Linked DNA regions of Homo sapiens: region 2 is linked to region 1. The links come from fine-mapping of genetic effects on gene expression. A gene starts in region 1. The other region holds a variant in brackets. All regions are shown on one strand. Distances are between the middles of the regions.

Region 1 (11,730 bases):
TAGAAGAAGAAGGAGCTAGGTCCCATTTAATATGTTGGACAGATCAACAGATGGAACACTTCTTTTTTCTTTTTTTTTAAGATGGAGTCTCGCTCTGTTGCCCAGGCTGGAGGGCAGTGGTGCGATCTCGACTCACTGCAACCTCCACTTCCCGGGTTCAAGTGATTCTGTCACCTCTGCCTCCCAAGTAGCTGGGACTACAGGCATGCAACACCATGCCCAGCTAATTTGTGTACTTTTAGTAGAGACATGGTTTCACCATGTTGGCCAGGTTGGTCTCAAACTCCTGACCTCAAGTGATCTGCTCGCCTCGGCCTCCCAAAGTGTTAGGATTACAGGTGTGAACCACCGCACCCGGCCGGGACACTTTCAAATGTCAAACTGGTGGTCCAACTTTCCTCCCTCCCACCAAATTCTAGAGTGACCATGTAAGATAGATGCTTCTTGCTTTCAAATTCCAGTCGTGGACCTGTTGAGAAAATAGCCAAAAGCAGGAAAGAGGAATAGTAAAATGCCAGGAAAAACACAAAAGATGAACTCAGAAAATGTAAAAACTTAAAGGAATTATGGAAATAATTAAACCTATTACTCTTAGGCCACTGAAAATGAAGCCAAGTGATTTGACAAAGGCTGCTCACAGTTAGCAACATTGGTATAAGACCCCAGGATCAGCACTTATTCTACCACTCGACACTACACTTTCAGTCAATTATTCCTAAGATCCCTTCAAAGTCTTATAATAGCTAATATTTGAGTGCTTCATATCTGCCATGTATTAATCTAAGAGCTTTACTTCTCTTAACTAATTTTTCTTTTTAAAATTTTATCTTCATGACATTCAATAATTCTCTTCTTGACTATCCCATAAAACAGGCAATTATCATTGCCATTTTAAAAATGAGGACACAAGAGAAGCTAAGTAAACTCGCTCAAGATTGCAAAATATGAATGATGGGGATGGGATTCAAATCATTTTTAGGGACATTTTTTTCCTCCCTTTGTAGAGTGTGGAACTCTTGTAAGCATGCCTTTGTCTTGCACATCATCATATCCTTCCTCCCCAAATCTCCAGTGCCTAGCACAGTGTAACACACATGGAAATTGTCTACTAAAATAGTGAAGTATTTAATTTTACCCCATTTAAATTGTTAATTCATCAATTCAGTATGCTATTGATTGATGTTTATATATAAGGTACTTTATAAACCTGCTTTCAATCCCTAAAACTCCTCTACAAAGCAAGTAATCCTATTTTACAGGAATGAAATAACTTGTCCAAAACAACACAGCAAGAAAGAGACAAATCTTAGGCCATTCCAAGGGCCACACACACTTGCCACTAAACCACCCTTTTTTTTCTTTTTTTTTTTTTGAGACAGAGTTTTGTTCTTGTCACCCAGGCTAGAGTGCAATGGCGCGATCTTAGCTCACTGCAACCTCCTCCCAGGTTCAAGCGATTCTCCTGCCTCAGCCTCCCGAGTAGCTGGGATTACAGGCACACACCACCATGCCCAGCTGATTTTTATATTTTTAGTAGAGACAGGGTTTCACCATATTGGTCAGGATGGTCTCGAACTCCTGACCTCAGGTGATCCACCTGCCTCGGCCTCCCAAAGTGCTGGGATTATAGGAGTGAGCCACAGCACCCGGCCTAAACCACCCTTTTCAACACAGTCCCTGTTCTCAAAGACCTCCTAATCTGATAGGGATATCAGATATCATCATTCCAACAACACTCTAAACTCCCTTTAACTCTGTCTTTATATTTAACTATCTGGCAGTATGTCTAACCTAGCCCGGGACAGTTGCAGACAACAGAACCCACTTAAGCAGAAAGGGATGTATTGCAATAACAGACTTTGGCGGAACTTCCAGGAACAACACCTAACCCACAAAATAACACCAATTACACTGCAATGTGATAAGTGCTAAAGCAGAAGCTTGGGGGCCAGGCATGGTGGCTTATGCCTATAATCGTAGCACTTTGGGAGACCAAGGCAGCAAGATCACTTGAGGCCAGGAGTTTGAGACCAGCCTGGACAACATGGCAAGACCTTATCTCTATAAAAAATACAACAATTAGCCAGGCATGGTGGCACATACCTGTTATCCCACCTACTGGAGAGGCTGAGGTGGGAGGATCACTGGAGCCTGGGAGGTCGAGGCTACAGTGAGCCATAATCATGCCACTGCAATCGGCCTGGGCAACAGAGTAAGACTGTCTCAAAACAAACAAACAAAAGTAGTAGCTAGGAAGAGAAAGAGGGTCTGGGGGAAGTAGAGAAGTTAAACAGATAACTGAATAAGCCTTTTAGGATAAACAGAAATCCTCTAGCAGAGAATACTGTTCTTTGACCTCATTAGAACCCTGATTTATTGGCCTCTATTTTCTTCCAATCTATCAGCCCTCCCCTTTTTCTTCAGTTTTCTTCCAATCCAGCTTAGATTCCATAGCCCATCATTCCAACAACACCCTAAACTCCCTTTAACTCTGTCTTTATATTTAACTCTCTGGCAGTACCTCTAACCTGGTCAGGGACAGTTGCAGACAACAGAACCCACTTAAGCAGTAAGGGATGTATTGCAATAAAAGACTTTGGCAGAACTTCCAGGAACAACACCTAACCCACAAAATAATACCACCTTTGCCACAATCCAGGAAAGTTATGGCTATCACTGCAGCAAGCCACCAAACCAGGGAGCTATTGACTGGAGAAATTTACTGCCATGACTGGCAGCAAAACTGGATGACTCACACCCTCCTTCTTTCCACATTTAACTCAGTTCCAAATTCAATTTTCACCTTAGGTGCAAGGGAGTCAAGAAAATGGTTTTTAGTTTTCCAGATTTTTCAGGAAGAGAAGACATATTAGAGGTTAGAATGTGTCTTGAGCAAGCGATGTCCTTGCCATACCCAGAAAGGTTTTCTCCATGCATGCACTAAACCGCTGGATATGCTGGAAAAAAATTTTTTTTTTCCTTGCATCCTACATTTCTCTAGTAACCTCATTCTCCCACACTCCACAGTGACTTTCAAATCTTCTACAATATTCTCAAATTTCTCAAAACTGGATCCTCAACTGGATCCTGGATAATCCCTTATCCCCATCGGTTAGCACATCCTCTCCTCCTCTTTACAATCAGATCTATGAAAAATACTGTGTAGGTTCACTACCTACATTTTCTTGTCCAAATCCTTGCCTCATATCTGGCTTTTGGCCCAATCACACCAACAAAATAACTCTTGCTAAGGTTACTGTGACCTCCATGATGATAAAAGCCAAAATATGTTTTTCAATCTTCATGTTATTTAAATTCTAGAAATTTCTATCACAAATCATTCTTTTGCTTCTGAGACATTCTTCCAGTCCTCCTTCCTTTCTTCTGTATCTCCTGTAGGTTCACCTGTTCTTCACCATTAAATGTTGGAACTAGTCAAGGTTCTGACTTAGCTGACCTTACCCACACCTATGGCTCAATTCATGTATATACAAATTATGCCCAATTTTATATTCCCAACACAAATCTCTCTTCTGAGCACAAAGCTGTATTTCAAACTGCCTCTTGGATGTCATGAATGACCCCACACAATCAATCAATCAATCAATAAAAACTGATCTCAGCTGGGAGCAGTGGCTCAGGCCTGTAATCCCAGAATTTTGGGAGGCTGAGGCAGGTGGATCACTTGAGGCCAGGAGTTGGAGACCAGCCTGGCCAATATGGTGGAACCCCATCTCCACCAAAAATACAAAAATTGGCCGGGCACAGTGGAGGCGCCTGTAATCCCAGCTACTGGGGAGGCTAAGGCAGGAGAATTGCTTGAACCTGGGAGGTGGAGGTTGCAGTGAGCCAAGGTTGCACCACCACACTCCAGCCTGGGCGACAGAGCAAGAACCTGTCTCAAAAAAAAAAAAAAAACAAAAAAAAACTGGTCTCTAATCATCTTCTAGTGTTCCCTATCCAGCTTGAGGGATTCCGTGATAGTGAGTGAATGGTACCACCATCTATTCAACTACATAAGCCAGAAACCTAGGAGTTACCTTTGATTCCTCTCTTCACTCCCTAAAATCAACCCATCACCAAGTCCCACCCATTTTACCTCCTATATACCTCTAGAATCTGTCCAATTCTCTGCAGTTCCACCCATATCTCAGTCCTCACTGACATCTCTGACCAGGATTACTGCATATCCCAAGTGGTCCACATACATCGACTAGGGCTTCCCCAACCCCCGTCTGTTCACACCACTGAGCCTGAGGGATCAAGTCCCCTCCTCCACCACACCCCACTGGGGGAAGACGGCTCAGTGGTATCTCATCCGTTTTAAAATAAAAGCTACAAATTCCTGCAAGGTCTGACCGCTATCACGTACAGCTTCATCTTGTACCATACTCCCTTCATTCTCTTTGTACCAGCCACACTGGCTCTTTGTGCTTTTAGTCATTTTCCTCCCAAGTGCCTCAGGGCTCTGAACAAGTAGTTCTCTATGGAAGGTTCTGCCTTCACTTCTTCACCTAATTAATTACAACACTTCCTGCAGCTACCAGCGCAGGCATCTTTTCCTCTGAAAAACCTTCCTGCTTATTTCAGGCACTCATAGCATCAGGCAGCAGTAGGAGGCATTTCCATGTATTAGTGAGGTCATTGTTTAACGTTTTCCCCACCAGAGTTAAACGCCCTGAGAGTAGGGACCGTGCCCGGTTCACAACATACCCCCAACGCGCTGCTAAATGAATATCAGCAGGACGACTGAGGCAATGACCACGTTCATGGGCATGAGTCTCAAATTTCTCAACAAGACTGTGCTCTGGAGAAGGAGTCGGACATTTCCTTCATCACTGTCTCTCTCAGGGGGGCATACAGTAGGCCCTGATCAAAAACTGCAAAATCAGTGGCAGAAACAAGTCAGCCTCCTCGGCCAAATGGGGCACCGGAGGAGGCTGGGACGCAGGCCTTTCTCCCTGGGAATGCCCGGCACAGGACTGGCCACGATGGGCGCTCTTGAAGAAGGGAGCCGCAGGGGCTGGGTCTTGCCGCCAGAGACCCCAAGGCTCCGCTCCTGCCCCGAAAGGGAGCCCAGGCTACTACTTACCACAGCTGGGGACTCGGGGCCCGCCTCCCACCCCTTGCTGTCAGCACCCTCAGCTGAGAAGGGCAGGTTCAGACTGCACAACCGAGGCGTCGCCTCCAGACTCAGGCAGCCACCCACCCCGTTCTTCCTCATACGTACTAGGCGTCAGCTCCAGGTCCCCGAGTCGCTGCGCTGAACTAAACGCCGACCCCAGTCAGCCAGCGCGTTTCCACCCACAAGACCCAGCGCGCCTAGGGCGGTCGCCAGCTCCGTCCACCAATCCTGGTATCGCACTCTCATGACGTCAGAAAGATATGCCCAATAACAAGAGACTATCCGAGGGCGGTGCAAATGGAAATATTGAAAGCCGATTGGTTCTTCCAAGCTGGAAGTTGTGGAGGAAGGACTAATTTGGAACCAATTGCGTGGCGCCTGAGAGCGGCAGCGCGGTCAGTGGCGGCGCTGAAGAGACCGGTTGCCGCCATGATAGAACAGCAGAAGCGTAAGGGCCCAGAGTTGCCGCTGGTTCCAGTCAAGCGGCAGCGGCATGAGTTGCTGTTGGGAGCGGGGTCTGGCCCAGGAGCCGGGCAGCAGCAGGCGACGCCGGGAGCCTTGCTGCAAGCGGTAAGTGAAGAAGCAGGCGGCCTTTGGCCCTCAGCTCATCTTCCTCCCCTCAGAGCGCTGTATCTGGTGATCCCTGACCCTTTCCCGCATTGCGGGGGCAGAACGAGAGTTTCTACGCAGAGTTAAAGCACATAAACACTGTAAAAGCTCCCCATAGCCTGCGAATGCTGCGTACGTGTTCCCCCGTTTGGCGCCCGTTTTCAGCCTCTCGACTGCCCTGAGATAGCATTAGAATTAGAGTTGAGGACCTTGGGCTCAAAACCCTGACCCGGGTTTAAGCATCCTGACTCTAACATGGATCTGGCATAGAACAAAAATTCCGAAGAGTGTGTAGAATGAATGAATGAGGGAGGGAAGAAAAAAGGGAAATGATTTGTGTTGGCTCGTTTTGGGACTTTGGGCAAGTTGCTTTTCCCTTTATTTCTCTGCACTAGTATTATTAACAACTAAATAGCAGCTAACATTCATTGACTCTTGTACTAAAGTGTTTCGTATATGAAATTTCCATTGATCTTGGTAGCAGCCTGTTAGGAACGTTATTAACCCATTTTGCAGATGGAAAAACAGACTTACCAAGTACGTGATAGAAGCAGATTTCGAACTGAGAAACCATGCTCCTAACTACATTTTTTGTAAGATAGAAATAGTGATCACACTTCTAATGTCCTGTTTAGGCTCAGACGAGGAAATACGAGTGTCCTCACATCTCCTCAATAAATCCTGCTGGCACCGTCCTCAAAATAGGTCTAGAATTGCTACTTCTACCATCTCCATCATTGCCTCATGGCCTAAGCCATTATTATCTCATCTGGCATTTTTGTAGTGGGACCCTAACTGGTCTTCCACTTTCTACCTTTGTATCAGCACCTGTTACCAAGCCAATAACCAAAGGAATCCTTCTAAACATCAGATCACATTACACTCTGCAGAAAACTTTCTGGTGGCTTTGTACTTCATCCAGAGTAAAAACCAAAATTCTTGTAATTATTTGCCCTCTTTCCCTTTACCTCTCTGACCAATTTCTTATTGCTCACCTGGCTTCAGTTACTCTCTCTTCCAAGCCTCTGCTTCAGGACCTTTGCATTTGCTGTCCTCTCTGTGGGATTGCTCTTCACAAATGTTTACATGGTTTACTATTCAGCTCCTGCGAATATTTGCCCAAATGTAATTTTTTCAGTGAGGATTTTCCTGACCACCCTATTTTAAATTGCAGTACCACATACTGTGGAACCCACATTGCTTCTCTCTCTCTCTTTTTTTGTTTTTTTGTTTTTAGACAATCTCTCTGTGTTGACCACTGGCTCAGTACAGCCTCCACCACCTGGGCTCAAGTGATCCTCCTGCCTCAGCCTCCTGAGTAGCTGGGACCACAGACACACACCACCACATCTAACTAATTGTATTTTTTTGTAGAGACAGGATTTCACTCCTGAGCTCAAGCAATCCGCACACCTTGGCCTCCCAAAATGCTGAGATTACAGGCATGAGCCACCATCCCCATCCCTTCTTTTGCTCTATAGCACATGACACCACATATATAGTTTGCTTGTTTTCTCTCACCTTCCCTTCTCCCTTCCCCCTTTCCCACTGGAACAGCGAGCTCCATTGTTTATTTTGTTCATTGCTGTTTGCCCAGTGCCTAGCACGTAACTTCTTTTTTTTTTTTTTAAGATGGAATTTTGCTCTTGTCACCCAGGCTGGAGTGGAGTGGCGCAATCTCGGTGCACCGCAACCTCCGCCACCCGGGTTCAAGCGATTCTCCTGCCTCAGCCTCCTGAGTGGCTGGAATTACAGGCGCCCGCCACCATGCCTGGCTAATTTTTGTATATTTTTAGTAGAGACGGAGTTTCACCATGTTGGTCAGGCTGGTCTCAAACTTTTGACCTCAAGTGATCCGCCCACCTCAGCCTCCCAAAGTGCTGGGATTACAGGTGTGAGCCACCGCGCCCAGCCTGCACATAACATTTTTTAAAACTAAATGAATCTGGCCGGGCTTGGTGGTGGGTGCCTGTAATCCCAGCCACTCGGGAGGCTGATGCAGGAGAATCGCTTGAACCCAGGAGGCGGAGTTTGCGATGAGACGAGATCACGCCATTGTACTCCAGCCTGGGCAACAGAGCAAGACTCCTTCCCCAAAAAATAAATAAATAAATAAATAAATATGAAAATGCTGGGAAGTACTGAAGAGATTTGGGGATTATGGGTAGTATACTTCTCCCATTTGACAAGTGAGCATATCAGCCCATGTTTAGATGAATTGCCCAAGTGTCATCTTGGTGTCCAAGACCATAATCAAAACTACTTCACCCATGCTGAGGATCCGTTTGCTATGAAAAAATAAGAAATAAAAATAGGCCAGGTGCAGTGGCTCATGCCTATAATCCCAGCACTCTGGGAGGCCAAGGCAGGCAGATCACATGAGGCCAGGAGTTTGAGACCAGCCTGGCCAACATGGTGAAACCCCATCTCTACTAAAAATACAAAAATTAGCCGGGCGTGGTTGTGCATGCCTGTAATCTTGGCTGCTCGGGAGGCTGAGGCACCAGATCCCTTGAACCCAGAAAGCATAGGTTGCAGTGAGCCGAGATCACACCACTGCACTCCAGCCTGGGTGACAGAGCAAAACTCTGTCTCAAAACACACAAAAAAAATTAAAAATAAAACAAAACTATTTCACCCAGTACTCCATACCAAGCAGAGTTGTTGGGAAAGTCAGTTCCATCATTTGTTAAATGAGCCAGGCCAAATGTGGTGGCTCATTCCTATAATCTTAGTGCTTTGGGAGGCCAAGGAGGGAGGCCAGGATTTTGAGACCAGCCTAGGCAACGTAGCAAGACCTCATCTCCACAAAAACTAAAAAAATTAGCATGGCATGCTAGTTCATGCCTGTAGTCCTGGCTACTCAGGAGGCTGAGGCAGGAGGATCACTTGAGCCAAGGAGTTTGAAGCTGCAGTGAACCATGATCACACTACTGCAGTCCAGCCTAGGTGACAGAGTGAGACCCTATCTCCAAAAAAAAGTTGGTCGTACAACAAGAGCTGAGAGAGTGAACAAGAGAGTCATTATAACAGGTAGATAATGGAAAGTTTCAGAGAGTGTCAAGTTGGAGGCATTCATATGAGAAGAGCTACCATTCTGTAAGTCAGATGAAACCCACTTAATCATTGTTTTCTTGGTCTTTTCCCTCCACTCCCCACCCCCTAATTTTGTAGCCTCCTTTGTCTGTATGCAGTAGTTACCTTGTGCTTCTCTTTTGTTTAGGGACCTCCAAGATGTTCCTCCCTTCAAGCCCCAATCATGCTGCTCTCTGGACATGAAGGGGAAGTCTACTGCTGCAAGTTCCACCCCAACGGATCCACCTTAGCATCTGCAGGATTTGACCGACTGATATGTGAGGCATAGTTTTTGAATCTGGAATAATTTTTCCTGCCAGATAGTGATTTTTTTTTTTAAATCTTGGGTGCCACAGAAGGTATCACTCTATGTTGGCAACATAACAGGCTGCATGGCTAATATGCTAAAATTGGGGCATGAACATGCTGAATGATCTTGGGTGTAGAACTTGGAGTCCATGGGGTAAATACAGAAGCCATTATTTTACTAGTTGGAAAGTGAGTTGTTCTGGTTTGAGAATGTCTTCCTCATAGAGGCAAATCTCCAGCTAATTTACCAAGGCACTTAGCAATCTAGACATAACAGGTTAATGGCAGTAATGAGGAGAGAAATAACTTTTATTTTCCCAAAGGTATAAGGTCCTCTTAATTCACACCCAGAATCCTAGCTAGCATATGGGAAGGAAGGAATCCTAAAGTGGTAACTCCCTTAAATAATCTACCTGTACATCATTAGGATCTACTACCAGATTTCCATTTTTGAGAAATAAGAATTTCTCATACCCATTTTTGAGAAGTAAGTAGAAAAAGTCGTTTTATTTATACTCCAGCAAATGAAGCCAGAAGGAAAAAAAATCAGATGCTTCTGTTGCTACTTTCTTGCCAGATTATGAGATGAAATGAGTTATTTGGCTCTTTTCTGTTAACTCTTTTCCTCGGTGCCGGGTGGATGATACCCGTCTTCACTGCCCATTTTGATTTGGATGTTCCGGCTCTATGATCCTTAAGCTTACTAGTGGCCAAACGTCTGGATTGCTTAGGGATCTTTGCAGAACATATATGAATTATTGATAGGCTTAATTTCATCAGACAAACTACATAGTTTTTTTTGTTTGGTTGGTCGGTTGGCTTTTTAGAGACGGAGTCTCACTCTGTCACCCAGGTTGGAGTGCCGTGGCGCGATCTCGGCTCACTGCATCCTCCGTCTCCTGGGTTCAAGTGATTCTCCTGCCTCAGTCTCCCAAGAGCTGGGATTGTAGGCGTCTGCCACTACACCTGGCTGATTTTTTTATTTTTATTAAAGATGGGGTTTCGCCGTATCAGCCACGCTGGTCTCGAACTCCTGACCTCAAGTGATCCACCCGTCTCGGCCTCCCAAAGTGCTGGGATTACAGGTGTGAGCCACCGTGCCTGACCTGAGAACTGTTGTTCTGATAAATTTATAAGTACCCTTTGCCTAGTAATGCTCACAGAACCCATCTCCCTAACAGTACTGTGGAATGTCTATGGTGACTGTGATAACTATGCCACACTGAAGGGACACAGTGGAGCAGTGATGGAATTGCATTACAACACAGATGGCAGGTGAGTATTCTGCATAATGGAAGGACAGCTTCTCATACTAATTCTTGGCGTCCTTTCACCTTTCATCCTTTCTCAGGAGACCCTGCTATCAAAAACTACTAATTTTGGGTAGCTACTTTAGTATCCGATTTATCACTGTCACCCCAAGTGAGGTGTTTATAGTCTGTGTATGCAAATATAAAGATGTTACATCGGTCATTTCAACAACCCAGACAAATTTTTCTTTTTTTAAGACATAAAATAAATGTGATTTTTATATGTAGGCTGGAGTGCAGTGACACAAACATGGCTCACTGCAGCCTCAACCTCTTGCTCGAGGGATCCTCCCACTTCAGCCTCCCAAATAGCTGGGGCCACAAGCCCACGCCTCCATGCCCAGCTAATTTTTAAAAATCATTTGTGGAGACATGGTCTTGCTATATTGCTCCTGAGCTCAAGCAGTCCACCTGCCTCAGCCTCCCAAAAATGCTGTGATTACAATAATTAACCACCATGCCTGGCCTGAAATCAGCTATTTCTATTATAAAAATCATTTCTTTTGAGAAACCAAAAAAAGCAGAAAGATGAAAAAATAGTCTATATTTCTACCACTCCAAAGATAATCAGTGTTAATTTTTTTTTTTTGAGACGGAATTTCACTCTTGTTGCCCAGGCTGGAGTGCAATGGCACGATCTCGGCTCACTGCAACCTCCGCCTCCCAGGTTCACGTGTTTCTCTTGCCTCAGCCTCCAGAATAGCTGGGATTACAGGGATGCATCACCGTGCCTGGCTAATTTTGTATTTTTTGTAGAGACTGGGTTTCTCCATGTTGGTCAGGCTGGTCTTGAACTCCCAACCGCAGGTGATCCGCCCACCTCAGCCTCCCAAAGTGCTGGGATTACAGGCATGAGCCACCGTGCCTGGCCAATCACTGTTAATTTTATACATTTTTCTAATGCCTTTTTTTCTACTCAGAACTGTTTAGTTGTTGCATATTTGTTAGAACTATGTGTACAATCTTTTTTATTTATTTATTTATTTTATTTTATTTTTTTGAGACGGAGTCTTGCTCTGTCGCCCAGTCTGGAGTGCAGTGGTGCGATCTCGGCTCACTGCAAGCTCCGTCTCCGGGGTTCACACCATTCTCCTGCCTCAGCCTCCTGAGTAGCTGGGATTACAGGTGCCCGCCACCATGCCCGGCTAATTTTTTTGTATTTTTAATAGAGATGGGGTTTCACCGTGTTAGCCAGGATGGTCTCGATCTCCTGACCTTGTGATCCGCCCGCCTTGGCCTCCCAAAATGCTGGGATTACAAGTGTGAGCCACCGCACCTGGCCAGAACTGTGTGTACAATCTT
Region 2 (11,730 bases), 390 kb before region 1:
AGGAGAGGGTGAGGGTAGAAGATCTCGCTGTAGCGAGTGGTCCCTGGAAACTTCCACGTGACTCTGTTTCTGCCCTCAGGGGGATCCAGGTGGCCCACCAGGCCCCAAGGGAGACAAGGTGAGCATAGGTGGGAGTGTGGTCACGTGGGGAGCTCCATGCTTGACAGGAGGAGAGAGAAGGGGCCGGGGCAGCTTCCCACAGGGGAAGCAAGTCCCAGGGAGGAGGCCGGGCCTTTGGAGGAGGAGGCTGGGCTCGGCTTGGCCAGGCCCCTTGGCGGGGAGCGTCCTGTCCCCATCCCAGTGCTCACTGAGCTGCTCACTGCAACCTCCGCCTGTGTTCCAGGTATAGGGATGGGCAGACCTAAGTGTTGTAAAGATCAAAGTGGACTTTGCTGGAGGGCCCAAGCTCATTTTAGAGCCTTGTGCCTGGATGTGCAGAAAGCTCTGGAAATTTCTGTCTGTGACTGCTGGGGTCACGCGGATCACCTCTTAACCTGTGCACCAGTGAAGGGGCACACAGAAGCTTCATTTTCTCCCTTCCTTTGAAACCTAGAATGGCTTGGGTTAGACACGGAGGGCAGGCAACAGGAACCGACCGAATGGAACAAATGGCAACAAGAGATTTGGCAACGATTGTTCTGCCATCACAGAGGGGCACGGGTGGGGAAGGGGGAACGCACCGAGATTGCATTGGCCAGAAGGCTCCCCGCTTATCCTTTCTTCTGACCACAGGGCAGCTCGGGGATCCCAGGAAAGGAAGGCCCTGGTGGGAAACCTGTGAGTGACACCAATCCAGCGGGGGAGGGTCGGCTCTTCCAAGGCCTCTGGAGGGAGGGGCTAGGTCCTCCGGCCCTCAGTTGGCACACCAGCCCTCTGCCCTGGCACTGATGCCCATTGCCTCTTTTCTAACAGGGGAAGCCAGGTGTGAAGGGAGAGAAGGTGAGTCCTAGGCCTGGCTGCCCAGATCGGGGTGGGAACGGGACCCCCTTTCTGCACATGACAGTGAGCATCAAGGGCCCTAGGCCTAGGGGTGCTGGACCTTCCTCAGGGGACCCCCACCCGTTCTTCCTCTGATGTCCATGTGCAGTGAGTACATAAAGAACCTGGCTTAGGGGTGAGCTGGGTTCAAACTCTGCCTCCACCACACACATGGTTATGAATGTGCCAGATCAATTAGCTTCTCTCTTAGCCCAAGTTTCCATGTCTGTCAGTGGGGCACAGTCATGTTTTAAGGCTTACGGCGAGGATGTAGTTTTGCGCCACCCTGGAATCTTGTGGTGAATGAATGAGTCAGTTGAACAGGAAGCCCCAGCGGCATTCCTGCTGTCCACTTTGATGTTGGGGGTGGGGCTCTGGTGGACCCAATGTCTAGGGCTGGTCTGCGCAAGAGGCCCCTTGCCTTCCCTGGGGTCTCAGCCCCACCCTGTCCACATACTGCCTCTCCCTTCTGCTAGGGTGACCCCTGTGAAGTGTGCCCAACACTGCCTGAAGGGTTCCAGAACTTTGTTGGACTTCCTGGAAAGCCAGGGCCCAAAGGGGAGCCTGGTGATCCTGTACCAGCCAGGGTGAGTGCCCAGGGTGACCATTGAGGGACCTCCCCCAACACACAAAGAAACCTGGGGACATGATCATAGAGAGGAATTGGGCAGAGGGGCTGGGTACTTCTCGTGGCTACAGAGAGATTATGGGCAGAGAGTCTAGGCTCTTACTGTGGTAAGGGGTCTGAACCATAGAACTCAGGGCTGGGCTAGAGTGCCACCTCCGGTCTCCATGGCAACCTCCCAGGGCTTTCCAGGAGACTCTAGGGTGCCTTTTGGGCAAGCTGGGCTGGAGCCCACCCTTACTGTGAGTGAGGCTGTGTCCTAGGATTGGGTATGTTTTGGGGGTGGAGGAAAGGAGTGAGCAGGACTGGGTTAGCCCCCTCTCTCACAGACCCCCTCTTTCAGGAGCACCTGGGAGCTGTCAGACAAAAAGGTGATTGGGTATATGCAGGAACTTCCCACTGGGTTAGCTTAACCTGGCGTCATTCCCCCCGCCACGCTCCTGCTTGTTATGTGGGTTGATGAACCCTGCCTCTGGGGTGCTGGCCTTGGACCCCATGGGACCCCTAGGTGTTTGGACGGTTTGCGTGTGTGACATTGCTGTCCTCGCATATTGCCAGGGAGTTTGGGGGTGCCCCATCGTGCCCTGCCTCAGCCCACAAACCTTTTTACCCTGCAGGGAGACCCTGGCATCCAAGGCATCAAAGGAGAGAAGGTGAGGGAACCCTGCTCTCCTGGCTGCCCTCCTCTGCCTACCTGGAAGCATTTCTGATCCTTCCTCTTCTTTCCCCAGGGGGAGCCCTGCTTGTCCTGCAGCTCGGTTGTAGGGGCCCAGCATCTTGTGTCCTCCACAGGGGCCAGTGGAGATGTGGGTTCCCCTGGCTTTGGTCTGCCTGGCCTTCCGGTGAGTGACGACTTTCTCCCAGCCCAGCCCAGTTCAGCCATCCTTGCCATACTGTTGATCTCCCTGGCTTTTCAGATCCCAAGTCTCAGGGCAGGGATCAGGAGGGAGGGGAAGAGGCAGGTGTCCCAGGCCTGTCTCCTGGTCCCTCCCTCCGTCCCTGTGCTGCCCCAGGCTCCTTGCCCTGGAACTTCCTCTTAGCACCTCTAGCTTCAGTTGTCTAACTGAAGAAACTGTCCAGCTACCTGAAGGACATAATTCCTATCTTACCGTTCTGTTTCTGGTTGGACACTGGGACCCGGGGAGCCTTGGAGAGGTGGGAGTGGGGAGATGCTGAGACTCTGTCTTGGTTGTTTTTCAGGGTAGAGCTGGGGTTCCAGGGCTGAAAGGAGAGAAGGTGAGACCTGGGTTAGATGTCAGGGACACTGGAGTTTCTTGGCAGGCAGGCAGGGGAGGAGTGGTGCGGGCGGGGAATAAGGGTAATATAAACAAGAGATTCAGACGGTAAATTCACAGTGAAATTAATTTACTAGTGTTTTGCAGACTTGAGTCAAAGAATTTATTTCTGAGAGCCCTCATGTTCTGTAAGAGAATTCCTTAGTGTAGCTGTGATGATATTCTAAAACTATTAAGCACATTCAAGATTACCTTATTATATTTATAATATGTAACACTTCTTTATTGCTTATGATGTGCCGGGCACTATTCCAAATCTTGTAAGTATATTCACTTGTTTTGTCCTCCCAGAGTTTATGGGGTATGTGCTCCATTATTCCCATTTCACAGATGAGGAAACGGAGGCACACAAAGGCCAAGTAAATTGCCAGGTGATTGGATGCAGAGCTGGGATTGAGCCCAGGAAGCCTGGCTCCAGAGACTGTAATCTTCACTACGCCTGTGGGTCACTCAATTTCAGTGCCTGTGTTAACGTATCTATTTATGATTGCATTGGAGACAAATGGCAGGCTTGAACTTCTAATGCAGTGTTACCCAAATGTTACCCAAATTCTGTGGGTGTACGAGTGCTCAAGTGTGAGAAACACTGAAGTATGTGTGCAGACTCAACCCTAACAGGGGAAGCCCACATGTCACATCACATGTGGGGCCTTTGCACCCCCACCCCACCTGCCGCCTCTTCCCAGCTTCCCCATCTCAGTCATCAGCTCACAGCCAGCCCCTCAAAGCCCAGCCTTGCGGTCGTCCTCAGATCCTTCACTCCTGACGCTGCCCCCTCCCTCTAGCCCCCCAGCGAGTCCTGACAGTTCTGCCCATGATGGCTCTCTCACCCCCTCCACTTCTCTCCACGCCCACCACTGCCATAGTAATCTGCGTCCCCATGGCCTCTCTCCTGCATGGTGGAACCTCCTCTGGCCTGCCCGTGGCCACTGTAGCCCTGCAGCAGTCCGGTTTTCACCTGGTAGTTTTTCGTGTGTGTGTGTGTGTGTGTGTCTGTGCGTTGTTGGTTTTTTTTTTTTTTTTTT[TG/G]AGACTGAGTCTCACTCTGTTGCCCAGGCTGGAGTGCAGTGGTGTGATCTCTGCTCACTGCAACCTCCACCTCCCAGGTTCAAGTGATTCTCCTGCCTCAGCCTCCCAATTAGCTGGGATTACAGGCGTGCACCACCACACTCAGCTAATTTTTGTAGTTTTAGTAGAGACGGGGTTTTGCCATGTTGGCCAGGCTGGTCTCAAATTCCTGACCTCAAGCGATCTACCCTCCTTGGCCTCCCAAAATGCTGGGATTACAGGCGTGAGCCATCGTGCCCAGCCTTCACCCGGTAGTTTAATGTGGCTTTGTAGAAGAATCAGTATTTCCCTCCTTAGAGTCCCTCTGTGACTTACTTTCTAACATAGCTCCACTGTATCTCACAGGACCCCGGATGCCCCAGCCCCCATCCTTCCCAAATTCATCCGCTTCTTCCCCTTCTCTTCGGGTTTACTCTGCTTTAGCCGTGCGGATCTTCTTTCCATTATGGAATATGTCCGGACTACTCCCACCCGTCAGATTTTGTACTTGTGGTTCCCACTAGAAGCATCCAGAATGTTTTTCCTCTCTACCCTCCCCCATTCTTTCATTGGATGACCTTATTCTCATTCTTCTGGTAATAATCAGGGTTAACACCTCTCTGACCACCTCCACTTACTCTGTCTCATCACCTTGTTGATTTCCTTCATAGTACTCACCACTGTTTAAAATGATGATTTAGAAAGTTCTGCGTGTGCAAGCTCAACAGGCATTGCTGTTTGTCCTGCTCACTGCTGTCTACCCAGTGCCTCAGCCCAGTGCTCCGCCTGTAAAGGTGTCCAATGAAAGGCTGTTGGAAAAATGCCTTCGTGATTTTTGTGTGCTGAGACATGGCTGAGGGTGGGCTGGATTCCATGAGGTGAAGCTGGGGGCAGAAATAGGGCTTCTAGCCCCTGGCTGGTTACAGACTCCCTTGGGGACCTTGGAGAAAGCCCTCTTCCTCTCTGGACATGAGAGGGTAGTCTGGACATCTGAAGGGGTTGCTTTTACAGTTTTGGGTTTGGGATTGCTCTAGCACCCAGACTCCATCCCCTCTTTAATCATGGTTTCTGTGCTTTCTCTCAGGGTAACTTCGGGGAGGCAGGGCCAGCTGGCAGTCCAGTAAGTATGTTTTGGATGGCAACAGCTTGGGAGAGGACAAGGTGGGAGGGGCTGATAGGCATGGCCCTGGCAGATGCTGGGCATTACCTGTAGCGTCTTAACATGCAGGGGCCACCAGGACCAGTGGGGCCAGCAGGCATCAAAGGGGCGAAGGTGAGTCTGGGGACATTCTCCGTGCTGCAGCCTGGGTGAGCTTCCTAGATAGACACTCGTCTTGCTCGACTTCGAACCCTCTGGGGCTCCTTGCTGTCTGTCGGGCAGAGTCTGACTCCTTAGCAAGGCATGGAGACCCCTGATGACTCAGCTCCACCTTTGTTTCTTTCCTGTTCTCCCTTCATCTTTCCCAAGATAACCCCTCACCCAGCAGAGGTGCAGTGTCAGACCCAGTGACATTCCCCAGCCCTAGATTCCAAACCTCGCTCAAGTGCACTAGGGCCTGGGGGACCCCCTAACTCAATGTCCTTGCTTGGCAGGGGGAGCCCTGTGAGCCGTGCCCAGCCCTGTCCAACCTTCAGGATGGGGATGTCCGTGTGGTGGCCTTGCCTGGCCCATCCGGAGAGAAGGGGGAACCTGGGCCTCCAGGCTTTGGCTTGCCAGGAAAACAGGTGAGGTGGGATATAGGCAGGGGCCTCTGGACGGGGGATGCAGGCGGGGCTAAGGAGAGGGGAGGGGTCCTGCCTGGGTCTCTTGACTCCCTGGGCAGTTGGGGGTAGTGGGGAGGGTGTGGCGGGGTCAGAGCCTCTGTCTCCAGCAGGAGCGGCCCTCACAGGTCTCTGCCCTTTATCCTGGGACAGAGTATGGCAGAGTGGGCAGAAAGCACGCCATCCTAGGAGCAGAGAGACCTGGGTTCCAATCTTAGCTTTGCTTCTTACTAAGTCTTTGACTTGAGCAAGTCACCTTCTCTCCACCTCTGTTTCCTGCACAGAGTAAAGCCTAGTAATGGCGTGTGTGAAGTGCTTAGTGGTACACCATGGGCACTGGGGAAATGGCAGTTACCACTGTGGTTATTATCACTGTTACTGCTTTCACAGTAACGGCCAGCACTACCACAGTGGACACTATGTGCCAGGCACTGCTGCACACGACATATTAGCTTGTCTAACCTCACAGGATCCCTACAGGGCAGAAGCCTATACTATTTTTATCATCCCCATTTGACAGCTGAAGAAACTGAGGTACGGAGATAGATGAGCTAATTTGCTCATGTCACCCAGGCAAAGAGTCTGGCACAAATCTTTGCTCTGCACCTGGGCAAGATTGCTTCACTAGCACGAAAGCAGAGATTTTGTTTGTTTGTTTACTGTTGTATGCCCCAGCCTGATGTGGTGCCGGGCACTTTGGGGTGGCTGGTATGAGTGAGCGGGTGCTGGAAATGCTTTCTCCTCAGGGCAAGGCTGGAGAGCGTGGACTGAAGGGGCAGAAGGTGAGAGGGCGTCCGTGGGCACGGGGGTGGGCATGGCATCATCTCAGATCCCCTCCTTGCCTCATTTTCCTCCCTCCCTAGCCCCCAACCCTCAGCCCCGGCAAAGGAGTGTGAGTGCCTGCGAGTCCCAGGGGGGCAACCTGCCCCCGGCTGGGCCATCCTTGCTTTCCTTGAACCCCACTCCTTACAGGGTGATGCTGGGAATCCTGGAGACCCTGGAACGCCGGGCACCACAGGGCGGCCAGGACTGTCAGGAGAGCCTGGAGTTCAGGGCCCCGCGGGGCCAAAAGGAGAAAAGGTTAGTCAGGCGGGGTGGTTGGGGTCGGGGAGTTTGTTGCATAAAAAAAATCAGGTGTCGCACCAGTGAGGGAAGGACTGCAGGGCCAGCTGGGGCCTTAACGGCTGTCAGAGTCACTGAGCGGAGGCTCCTCGGGGCTTCTCCTCTGCTAGGAGTGTCAGGGGCCTGTTTTGATTTCCCAGGCTGACGTGGGAGCATTCAAGGGGCAGAGTGTTCAGAGGGGTGCAGGGCGTCCTGGCCTGGGTGCCAGCCCCGGCTCATGGGCTCCTGGCTGTACCCATCTCTGACCAGGGTGATGGCTGCACTGCCTGCCCCAGCCTGCAGGGGACAGTGACAGACATGGCAGGACGGCCTGGGCAGCCCGGCCCCAAAGGAGAGCAGGGCCCCGAAGGCGTGGGCCGACCTGGTAAACCCGTGAGTTGCCTGCCCTCCGGCCCTTCCCTGCCTGGGCTTTGCCTCCTCTCCCTCCTGTCCCCCTTTCTCCTGTGGGGACTCCATGGGCCACCTTATGCCTTTTAGGGCCAACCCGGTCTACCAGGAGTTCAAGGGCCCCCAGGACTGAAGGGCGTGCAGGTATGTGTGAGTCTTGGGGCCCTGGGCCGTAGCTACGTGAGGGCAGGGGTGGGATAGGGAGATCCATGGGGGCAGTGGGCCTGGAGTGGGAAATGGAGGCAGGGTGCAGGGCAGGAAGAAGCTGGAGGAGAAGGGGCTGGGGAGAAGGGGAAAGGGTGACTGGGGAACCTCGAGCCAGGGACTGTCCTTCTGCCTCTTCAGGGAGAGCCAGGGCCTCCAGGAAGGGGAGTCCAGGGACCCCAGGTGAGTCTCTAGCCCTGCCTTTGCCTGTCCTCTCAGCACTTCCATTAGCCAGCTACCTACTTCCATCCACTCCCAAACTTCAGGGCTCTGCCTGCCCCCAGAGGCACAGGACTTAGTTCTGGGACCAGGGATCAGGCCGCAGCCCTGGCCTGCTGTTGCTTCTGTCAGGGACTTGCCTTTGACCCCAGCCTCTCTGACCCTCAGGGTCTCCTTGGGGAGCTCTTCTGAATTTGGGCTGGCAGATACCCCACCCAGACCAGGTCTGCCGGTGCGGCAGGGCCAGTGGGGCAGGTTGGCTGTGGCTGCTGTGCCCTAGTCTGCCCTTTCTGACTTGCAGGGGGAGCCTGGAGCCCCGGGTTTGCCTGGCATTCAGGTACGTCTGCCTGAGTCCTGAAGGAGGATAGCAGGGGAGGGGGCCATTCTAGGATATGGGTTAACTAACTGTGCTTCCATCTGCAGGGACTTCCGGGACCTCGGGGACCACCTGGCCCCACTGGAGAGAAGGGTGCCCAGGTGAGCCTCTGCCTCCATGGGTATTGGGCCTGCAGTATTCCAGAGTGTCCCAGAAGCAGGCACAGGGGACATGGGGGCCAAGTGATGCCTATCAGAGGGCTGCCTAAGATCTGTTGAGATGTGTCTTACCTGCTGGGTTGTAGCTGGCTTCCAATTCTGCCCCTGAGACCTTTGTACCTTCTCTTACACAGGGATCTCCAGGGGTGAAAGGAGCCACCGGACCTGTGGGACCTCCTGGGGCCAGTGTCTCTGGGCCTCCGGTAAGTCTTCTCTGTGCTCCATGCTGGTGGTGTTGCTGGAACCAAGGATGTTTCTGCTGGGAAGAGGGCACAGGGCTGACCCTGCCCATCCCAGCAGCACAGGGGATGGGAGGAGAGAGGCCTCAGCCCAGCCTCAGACAAGGAAAACCTCACTCTTTTAGGGGAATGCTTGAATAATACAATAATGATCACCACCATTTTTTGAGCAGTGATCATGCTGAGGCCCTGTGCTAAGCTCTAAACACAGAAATTCATGTCATCCTCACATCAGCCCTGTAAGGGAACTCACTTCATAGATCAGGAAGTTGAAGGCCAGAGGGTGAGGAGGCAGAGCCAGGGACTTCAACCTAGGCCTGTCTGACTCAAACCAAAGCCCATCCCCAGTCATTAGGGACATGTGAACCGGTGCTGCCCAGTACAACTGTCTATGAGGATGGAAACGCTGTGTTCTGCACAACCACAGGTGGCTGTTGAGTGCACCTGAAATGTGGCTAGTGTGACTGAGGAACTCAATTTTAAGTGACATTTAATTTTAATTAATTTAAATTTAAATAGCCCCATGTGGCTATGGACTACTGTATCAGACGGCACAGATCCAGACCAGCAACTACTTCCAGTATAATTGGAAAGACCTTCCCTTTGTACTATTCACCCAGTGGCTCCCACGTTTTAAGAGACATGTCTATTGAACAAATTGCACGGATTAAGTAATCATAAGTGCATTTTCTCATTTTTAATCATCAAAGACCTGTATAGTCGTCAGCTTCTACTCCACATGAACCCGCTAGAATTTTACCAGATAATCTAATTGCAGCCAAAATCAAAGGCATGCTACCTTTCAGCCAGTCTGTTCCATGCCAGGCGGTGGGCAAATGCGTAATTTGTCTTGGGCTTTTGGTAATGTTAAAAATAGCCCAGGTGAACTGTATCCTCTTCTGTCTTTGCGGATCCCTGGAGAAATTCTAGTTCCAGTTTGGGATTCACTGATAGGAGAGTGCACCAACGTCCAAAGCAGGCAGGGACTCGCCCAAGCCCACACAGCCGGTCTCTATTGTCCCTCAGAGCTGGACAGCCAGGGTTCCTGCCTGTCCCAGGGAGCCCCAGGCAAAAGGAGAGATGTGGGCCAGGTCCTCAGGGGCTTCAAGTCCCACGTGTGAAGGTGGCGGAGCCCACATGAAGGAGCTATGAGCACAGAGCTACGAGCCTCTGCGTGGCCAGGCTGGCTTCTCCTGGCCTGAGCAGACTCCATGCCGTTGCCCAAACTGCTTTCCTTTTCAGGAGAACGTTCCAGACCTCTACTCATGCTGAATTCCATCCAGCAGGCTTCCCTTCCTCAGCCCCACACTCGCTAGGGGCGTGACCCTAGGCAAGTGACAGCTTCTCAAAGTCTCCAATTTCTTGGAGGGGCTGAAATCCCTTTCTCCCAGTTAGGTCAACAGATGTAACTTTTGTGATAGGGAGAAAGTGTATCAAGCACTAAAGGGAGAGAGGAGAGAGCAGAGACTTCAGGCTACACACGCCTGGCTGCAGCTGGCTGTTGGGTCTGTCATGAAGTTTCTTCAGGGCTCAGTTTCCACACCTGAAAACCAGAACAATACCGTCCTGCCGGGCTGGGAGAGCGGATTCCATTCAGTGTTCCCCGACGGGTACTTGGCCCAGTGGCTGGCACTGAGACGTGCTCAGGAAATGCCAGTCTTCTTCCTTGTCCGGCACCTCAGTCTCCTCCTCTGGAACGTGGGCCCTCGGCCCTGGGCTCCAGGGGAACCTGGCGCTGCTTCTGTTTGTCCTACACCCCTTTTCTGCAGCAGGCCAGATGGCTGGCCGCTGCCCAGTCTCACCCTCTGACTCTGGGCTCTCTCTCTTCAGGGCCGTGATGGGCAGCAAGGACAGACGGGACTCAGAGGAACACCAGTGAGTACAGTGCCTTGGGGCAGCAGGAAGCCATGGCCGGCCCTGCCTCGGCACCCCTATCTGCTCACCTTCCTGTGTTTCTTCCCTGCAGGGTGAAAAAGGACCACGAGGAGAGAAGGTGAGTTCCAAGGGCCTGTGACCCATATTCTAGGGGATTAGCAGCCCCTCCAGCCTTCCCACCTGTGACCCGTACTCTGGGGGATTAGCAGCCCCTCCAGCCTTCCCACCATGAACCAGGGGAGCCTGTGCACATGAAGCTGCCTTGGACTGGAGGATGGGGGTGGAGGAGGCATCCTGGGCTCCTTGCTACCCCCAGCTTTCTGGTTTCAGGGGCTCCACGTATCCCCAGCTTCACCTGGTTGCTGGCCTGGGACTCAACCAGGATTATGGGAGACTGGAAAACTCCAAGGCCCCCTTAGGAGGGCAGCTGCATTTTCAAATGGGGGCTGAGTCAGAGGATGGGGCAGGAAGTGAGCTGGAAAGGACTAGTGGTGAGAGGGCAGAGAGGTGAGGGGCTCCCGAGCGAAGGGCATGGAAGCCAGGCTGGGCCCAGAGGAGTGGGGCTGCAGTTGTACTGAAAGCGAGATTACCTGCGTGGCAGCAGAGAAGGTTATAACTGACGACTGTAACAGCAGGACCATCGTTTGCTGAATAATCACCATGCGACAGGACCCCTGCATACACGAATCCATTTTGTCCTCCTGAGACTCCATGCGCTTGGAATTATTGTTCCCATTTTACAGGCGAGGAGGCTGAGGTGCAGAGAGTTTGAACAGGTTGCCTAAGGGCACATTAGAAGAGGCAGATCCTGGATTGAAACCCTGGCCTCTCCATCTCTAGAGCCCACGTGCCTCTCGGATGTCCATTTCAAGAGAGCCCTTCGTCTTCATCCATGTCTCACAAAGGCTCTTGTATTTTCAGGGTGAGCCAGGGGAGTGCTCCTGCCCCTCTCAAGGAGACCTCATCTTCTCTGGCATGCCGGTAAGTGGCGCTGTGAGAGCCTTCCCCCAACTGGGGGAGAGGACCAGCTTCAGCCTCGTCTGGTGCCCAGTGTGCAAAGGCCCCGCAGGGCCACGCACCCCAGCCAGCCGCCTCCCCACGCAGCCCCGCGCTTGGTGTAGACGTTGCCTATAACCTCTCCCCTTCTTTTGCGACCCCCACTCCCACCCAGGGTGCTCCGGGACTTTGGATGGGCAGCTCCTGGCAGCCGGGCCCGCAGGTGTGTCGCTTGTCTCCTCTTGTCCGCCAGCGCCCCGCGGCTTGTCCACCCTAAACAGCTGCTCTCGGCCATGGGGCAGAGCTCTCTGCTGGCTCTGACTCTTTTCTCTCTCCCTCAGGGTCCACCAGGTATTCCCGGACCACCAGGCCCCCCTGGAGTACCTGGGCTGCAGGTAAAGGGGGAGAAGAGAATGAGGAGCTTGGGTGGCAGAGCTCATGGGTCAGGATG

Alleles and levels. Alleles are on the strand shown, and positions count from the first base shown. SD is a standard deviation of normalised expression in the study named.
For the expression in monocytes after interferon gamma of the gene that starts at base 5,518 in region 1, allele TG in region 2 goes with a lower level than allele G (large effect, 1.6 SD a copy in Fairfax 2014).

The links.
Region 2: its variant is fine-mapped to the expression of SNRNP40 in monocytes after interferon gamma (Fairfax 2014, PIP 0.95).

The regions. Positions count from the first base shown.
Region 1 is chr1:31,290,576-31,302,305 of GRCh38, reverse strand. It overlaps SNRNP40 (small nuclear ribonucleoprotein U5 subunit 40), which reads left to right and starts at 5,518. Exons shown (of 10, transcript NM_004814.3): 1 at 5,518-5,695; 2 at 8,958-9,087; 3 at 10,300-10,393. The coding sequence starts at 5,555. ZCCHC17 (zinc finger CCHC-type containing 17) reads right to left here and starts at 5,274. Exons shown (of 8, transcript NM_016505.4): 1 at 5,231-5,274. RefSeq lists an enhancer at 5,540-5,749.
Region 2 is chr1:31,679,576-31,691,305 of GRCh38, reverse strand. It overlaps COL16A1 (collagen type XVI alpha 1 chain), which reads left to right. Exons shown (of 71, transcript NM_001856.4): 20 at 80-118; 21 at 733-777; 22 at 913-939; 23 at 1,455-1,565; 24 at 2,221-2,256; 25 at 2,335-2,445; 26 at 2,804-2,839; 27 at 5,027-5,062; 28 at 5,171-5,215; 29 at 5,536-5,667; 30 at 6,450-6,485; 31 at 6,676-6,783; 32 at 7,075-7,197; 33 at 7,303-7,356; 9 more. Among named protein-coding and RNA genes, the nearest start is that of COL16A1, 19 kb to the left of the region's middle. RefSeq lists enhancers at 8,996-9,868, 10,144-11,343. The variant TG/G (reference allele first, on the strand shown) is at 3,924.